Homo sapiens: one gene and its partner. The protein of the gene in region 1 purifies or fractionates together with the protein of each later gene. This does not show direct contact. Each region holds a gene or a part of one and is shown in the gene's direction. Other genes may lie near its edges. The genes, in order: TMEM44 and COL1A2.

Region 1 (3,823 bases):
TGTACTCCAGCCTGGGCAATAAAGTGAAAATCTGTCTCAAGAAAATAAATAAATAAATAAATAAAAATAAAAAATAAGTGTTGTTTACAGCAATATCAAACCTTTACAATTATGTCATGCCACCGGCTAAAGTTAATGCGTCTCCTTTTATTGATTTAAACAGATGACCTCTACAAGTAGTCAGAACTTACTCTAATTGAGGCCATTTGTCTTCATCAAAAGTTTTTGGTTCCAAATAATTGAGAAAGTAACTCAAAGAAAGCTTGTAAGGACTTGAATATAGGCTGGGTGCAGTGGTTCAGGCCTGTAGTCCCAGCACTTTGGGAGGCAGAGGCGGGCGGATCACGAGGTCAGGAGATCGAGACCACAGTGAAACCCCGTCTCTACTAAAAATACAAAAAATTAGCTGGGCGCGGTGGCGGGTGCCTGTAGTCCCAGCTACTCGGGAGGCTGAGGCAGGAGAATGGCGTGAACCCAGAAGGCGGAGCTTGCAGTGAGTCGAGATCCCGCCACTGCACTCCAGCCTGGGCGACAGAGCGAGACTCCGTCTCAAAAAAAAGGACTTGAATATAAAATGGCTCCCTCTTTTCTAAGATTTCAATTTTTTTTTTTTTTTGGAAAAAACTCTCATCTATTACCTGGGCTCTTCACTACCTTAGACTCCTCTCACAGAGAGTGGGTGTGAGGCTGTGAGTAACTTCCTCCGTGGCCAGGATGGAGGAAGTGATGGGGAGTGCATTTGGACCGACAAAAACAAAAACTGCCCCTCCGAATGTTCTCCAAATGGCTTAACCATGTGATCCGACTGAGTCCGTGAAATAGAAGATCGTGGTGTATGTGACGCAGAGGAAAGCATTTTTTATATAGGTGCCCAGACCAAAGAGCCACGTTCCCATGAGGCCCTAGTGGGAAGTTATTTTCATTTCTTTCTAGCAACTGTTAGGAAATTATATTCCAAAAGGGGGCCAAAATATTAACAGAGCCCTGTGTGTCTTGGAATTCTGAAGAGAGAAGTAGAAGCCTCTGGAGTCTCTAGCAGTTCTTCAGAGCAGTGGTTCTCAAAGTGTGGGCCCTAGACCAGGATTACCTGGGAAACTGTGAGAAATGCAGATTTGGGGGCTCCACCCAGATCTCCCGAATCTGAAACTGAGGGTGTGGTCCAGCAATCTGTATTTTATTTATTTATTTATTTATTTATTTATTTATTTATTTTTGAGACGGAGTCTCACTGTTGTCCAGGCTGGATTGCAGTGGCACGATCTCAGCTTGCTGCAACCTCCGCCTCCTGGGTTCAAGCGATTCTCCTGCCTCCGCCTCCCACGTAGCTAGGATTACAGACACACGCCACCTTGCCCAGCCAATTTTTGTATTTTTAGTAGAGACAGGGTTTCACTATGTTGACCAGGCTGGTCTCGCACTCCTAACCTCAGGTGATCGGCCTGCCTCGGCCTCCCAAAGTGCTGGGATTACAGGCGTGAGCCACCGCGCCCGGCTGCAATCTGTATTTTAGCAAAACCCACAGGGTGCTTCTGATGTGCATCAAGGTTAGAGAACCACAGCTTTGCAAAAGCACTTATTGGGCACCTATTGCAGTGGTTCGCAAACTTGGCCGCACGTTAGAATCATCTGGGGCGCGTTTAAACGATCCACTTCCCGGTTACATCTCATACCCATGAAATCAGAATGTCTGGAAGTGGGAAGTAGGCATTCCTTGTTTTGTTTTGTTTGTACGACAGGGTCTCACTCTGTCCCCTAGGCTGGAATGCAGTGCCTGGATCACAGCTTCACTCCAGATCGCTGCTCAGCTGGGGATCTTAAAAAGCAGAATAGGCCGGGTGTGGTGGCTCACGCCTGTCATCCCAGCACTTTGGGAGGCCGAGGTGGGAGGATCACTCGTGGATCACTTGAGCCCAGGACTTTGAGACCAACCTGGTCAGTACAGTGAAACTGGTCTCTACAAAAAATAAAATAAAATAAAAAAGATTCCTAGCTGATTCTACTGTGTTGCAAAATTTGGGAAACACTAAATGACTGTGGCCTCGAAGAGAAAGATAAGACACATCTTATAGGAAGCAGAAAGTGAGACGTGCCGTTAAAAAAGAGAGAGAGAAAATACCACGGGGGTCCTTTTGAATAAAATGTGACCTTGTTTTTAGAAAATGCCTCCTGACTTTGAGAATTCCCCTTTCTGTCTCCCTGCCTCTACTTGCAAGAATTTGGATTGGGTGCCTCTCACCACACTGTCACACTGCAAGTCACTGAGGACAATGACAGCAATCAGTCGCTACATGGAGCTGACCATCGAGCCTGTGCAGCAGGTGAGTGGCCATCGGTCATGGCCAGGTGTCTGAGAGGATGGGAAGCAGTCATGGAAGGCTTCCTGGAGGAGGTGATGCTTTAGCTGAGGGATGAGCAGGAGAAAACAAGAGAAGCAGGTAAAAAAGAAGGAGCTGTCCAAGGCTGCAGTGGAGGGGCAGATATGGGGGAGTGTTGGAGAGAAAAATATTTTCCCTGTCCCCTCTGATGAAACACAGAGTAACAAGAAAAAACAGCTTTAAATGTACAAAGAAAAATGTGGCTCAAGGAGGTGGCCAGTTGATGGAGGCGTATATACCATATTAGGCTAAATCAAGAAAAAGAGGTTTGGGGTTCTGGGGTGGGAGGCAAGGTGAGGGAGGACCTGTGTGGGAAATAAGGGTTTTCTTGCTATGCAGGTGAGAGTCTCTCGGGTGGAAGTAGCTCTCTTCCTGGTGCAGAAATATCTTTACAAATGGAAATTTCCTTTATGAAAGGGAAAATGTGTACTCTCTTTTCAGGCAGTTAGGGGAGGTTAATAGCTTCTGCTTCTGCTGGTTTTCAAAGACCTTTAGATCTAAGGAATCCATATGCTAAAGAGGCATATTTCGGGGTGGTATATGCTGGTACCATTTAGGAGTGAGGGGAGATGAAAGGGCTGGAGGAGGCAGGGGTCGGGTCGTTTAGACACGGAGTCTATCATCTTTTTCTCTCTTTTTTTTTTTTGAGACACTCTGTCGCCCAGGCTGGAGTACAGTGGCATGATCTCAGCTCACTGCAGCCCCCCGGGTTCAAGTGATTCTCCTACCTCAGCCTCCAGAGAAACTGAGACTACAGGAGCCTGCCACCACGCCCAGCTAATTTTTGTATTTTTACTAGAGACGGGGTTTCACCATGTTAGCCAGGCTGGTCTCGATCTCTTGACCTCGTGATCTGCTGGCCTCGGCCTCCCAAAGTGCTGGGACTACAGGTGTGAGCCACTGCGTCCGGCCGTGTCTATCATCTTGAGAGTGATGGGAGTCAGGAGGCTTGAGTACTGGAGACTCAGGGTCAGATGTGCATTTTAGAGCCATCTGGGGAAGTTGTTGCGGGTGGCCTGGGGGAGAGGAGAGTAGCAGCCGAGCAGTCAGTCAGGGCCAGTTGGAAGCCCGAGGAAAAGGAAGTGTGGCCTAAACTGAGGTTGGAGCAGACGGAGAAGCAGAGACAGAGTTGAGCGAGTTGGGAAGTGGAGCGCTGGAGGGGTGAGGAGGTGCGGGTGAGGGAGGCAGGGCTCCGGGTGACTCCCTGAGTTCTGGCCTACACGAGGGGTCCTCAGGAGGAAGAGAATTGGGAAAGAGGTGACGAGAAGTTCACCCCATGTCCCACTATTCCACCAAGACTGTCTTGTCGAGGTCACCGATGACCTCCAAGCTGCTAAGTCCACCATCATTCCATTCTGAGAGTCCACGCACTCGGCCACCAGCTGCTCCTGGCGTCTGTGGCCCCCACTCTTCTGTGTTTCCTGCCACCCTCACAGGCTCTTCTTTCC
Region 2 (3,240 bases), on another chromosome or scaffold:
AACTGACTAATGTCATTTAGTGTGAAGGAGCACTGGCCAGCTATATGCCACACTCATACATATGCATTTTCAGAATGTGAGCAGCTTTTCTGAATTTTTAATCAAACCTTTTCACCAACTTTACTGAATGCCTACTGGAATTCCATAAATTACAAAATGACAGAAAAAGAAAAATGTCAGAATTTCTACCTCCTCATTCTCTTATTCTAAAGAAGAAGCATATGCAAAAAGGATTAATTGAAACAGATAACTTTTTTAGATGACCTTGCCTCAGTCTAGTAGGTCTTATGTTCATCTAGGTAACTGATACTTCAAAGACAAGTGAATTAAGTTTTCTTTAAAAGTACCCTTTTCCTAAGCTTGGATCTGAGTCTACTCTTCCTGAGATCTTTTTTTTTCTTTTTTTTTTTTTTCATGTTTGACTCTTAGTATCTGAGTCCTTCTCCACTTAACTGGAATTTCATCCTATTTTCTGTAGTTTGAATATAATGTAGAAGGAGTGACTTCCAAGGAAATGGCTACCCAACTTGCCTTCATGCGCCTGCTGGCCAACTATGCCTCTCAGAACATCACCTACCACTGCAAGAACAGCATTGCATACATGGATGAGGAGACTGGCAACCTGAAAAAGGCTGTCATTCTACAGGGCTCTAATGATGTTGAACTTGTTGCTGAGGGCAACAGCAGGTTCACTTACACTGTTCTTGTAGATGGCTGCTCTGTAAGTAATAGTGAAATATGGGAATAGCTTTGGGAAGTGGGATGGAGGGGGTTCTAACTTAGACTGCCCCCAAGGGGGGGTCTAAAGGGGGGTTAAAAGAACAGAAGAATGAGAGAACTAACTTATTTCATAAGTAAATTCAGTTTTTGTATGTATTTTATATTTATTTATTTATACGTATTAATTTCGTACTTAAATTCAGATGATAAATTCAGAGTATTCTTATCAGATAGTGCCTTCTGAAATGCTGAAATGTATACTATGTCCATGCATTGTTTTTTCTTTAGCATGTTTTTTAAATGGTAATGTGTGCCCAGAACTTAAAATTTCTTGAGACTTCAGTGGCCTAAACTATAATTTATAGTTATGTGTATTTTATTTTACTTATTAGTATGGCCTACATTTAACTTTTAATGCTTTTTCTACAATATGCTATAAATATAAGAAAAATTAAAATTCACTAACAGCAAGACTACATACCCACCCAGGTCCCGCTCCCAAAGACACACATAGAGGGACATACACACAACAATCCTAAAAATGACTTTGTAGAGATAGGTCACTTGGAATGTGTGTTGAAATGTTGTTGGTTTTTTTGGTTTGTTTGTTTGTTTGTTTTTTGTTAGACTGATAGGGAGCCCCTCCCACTAAAGACACCCTTGATACTGTTATTTCAAGGATGAACTTATTTATCTGGGACAGACATCTTCAGAATGACACATGCCAAACAGTGGTTCTTATTAAATCAAAGGTTCAGATATTATCAGATTCAGAAATAGTGATGCTTTGTGTATCTATTTTCTTCTCTTTAAACAGAAAAAGACAAATGAATGGGGAAAGACAATCATTGAATACAAAACAAATAAGCCATCACGCCTGCCCTTCCTTGATATTGCACCTTTGGACATCGGTGGTGCTGACCAGGAATTCTTTGTGGACATTGGCCCAGTCTGTTTCAAATAAATGAACTCAATCTAAATTAAAAAAGAAAGAAATTTGAAAAAACTTTCTCTTTGCCATTTCTTCTTCTTCTTTTTTAACTGAAAGCTGAATCCTTCCATTTCTTCTGCACATCTACTTGCTTAAATTGTGGGCAAAAGAGAAAAAGAAGGATTGATCAGAGCATTGTGCAATACAGTTTCATTAACTCCTTCCCCCGCTCCCCCAAAAATTTGAATTTTTTTTTCAACACTCTTACACCTGTTATGGAAAATGTCAACCTTTGTAAGAAAACCAAAATAAAAATTGAAAAATAAAAACCATAAACATTTGCACCACTTGTGGCTTTTGAATATCTTCCACAGAGGGAAGTTTAAAACCCAAACTTCCAAAGGTTTAAACTACCTCAAAACACTTTCCCATGAGTGTGATCCACATTGTTAGGTGCTGACCTAGACAGAGATGAACTGAGGTCCTTGTTTTGTTTTGTTCATAATACAAAGGTGCTAATTAATAGTATTTCAGATACTTGAAGAATGTTGATGGTGCTAGAAGAATTTGAGAAGAAATACTCCTGTATTGAGTTGTATCGTGTGGTGTATTTTTTAAAAAATTTGATTTAGCATTCATATTTTCCATCTTATTCCCAATTAAAAGTATGCAGATTATTTGCCCAAATCTTCTTCAGATTCAGCATTTGTTCTTTGCCAGTCTCATTTTCATCTTCTTCCATGGTTCCACAGAAGCTTTGTTTCTTGGGCAAGCAGAAAAATTAAATTGTACCTATTTTGTATATGTGAGATGTTTAAATAAATTGTGAAAAAAATGAAATAAAGCATGTTTGGTTTTCCAAAAGAACATATTGAGTAAAATTCCTTGCTTCAATGCTCTTTGCAATATAAATATGCATCTCTACCAGCCATTAGACCAAGTGCCTCTGATTAGATAGAAATTATGCAAAAAGGGCAGTTTGGTGTGGTAGAAAGAGCAGAGAACGAGGACCCAGGAGAGCTGAACTCCAGTTCTGGCTCTGTTCCTTGTGGCTGAGTGACCTTGAAACTCTGAGCCTCTGCATTTCAGTTTCCATAGCTATAATATGAAAAAATTCCTTTTCAGCACTATTAAGCATTTGCCCTACTCAAAATATGTAATATTTAAGCAACATGGCATTTTTGACCTAATTTTACTATAACCAAAGGTCTATAGAAACTTGGTTTATTATATATTAAGCACTTTATAACAGTGGCTGAAAGTTGGTCTATGAGCAATTAATACTATTAACTAAAACAGTTTCAAATATTCAGTAAAAATGCCATACACTTAAATCTGAGGCAACTGAATACAATGCCTGTTAAGAGGTAATGTGTGTGCTGTCAATCAGGATAGACAGTTGTGGATAATAGTACCACGAACACCTACCTGCCAAATCAAGTTCATTTTCCTCCCCTGCACCTTTCAATAACATCTTTAATACACTTAAACATAGTAATGTGTCAAGTAAAATGTTAAGATTCATTTAGAGCTTATTTCCTGTTGCAGAACATAATTGTGATTGTAATATTTGCCTTGTGTTATAAGTC

Evidence for each region.
Region 2: the proteins of TMEM44 (region 1) and COL1A2 purify together in Homo sapiens (affinity purification with mass spectrometry; one large-scale study listed by BioGRID and IntAct). This does not show direct contact.

What each region holds. Positions count from the first base shown.
Region 1 is NC_000003.12:194,609,411-194,613,233, reverse strand, and holds part of TMEM44 (transmembrane protein 44), read left to right. Parts: intron 1-2,213; coding exon 2,214-2,318; intron 2,319-3,823.
Region 2 is NC_000007.14:94,428,710-94,431,949, forward strand, and holds the end of COL1A2 (collagen alpha-2(I) chain precursor), read left to right. Parts: intron 1-478; coding exon 479-721; intron 722-1,537; coding exon 1,538-1,684; 3' UTR 1,685-2,518; downstream 2,519-3,240. UniProt on the Homo sapiens protein: Type I collagen is a member of group I collagen (fibrillar forming collagen).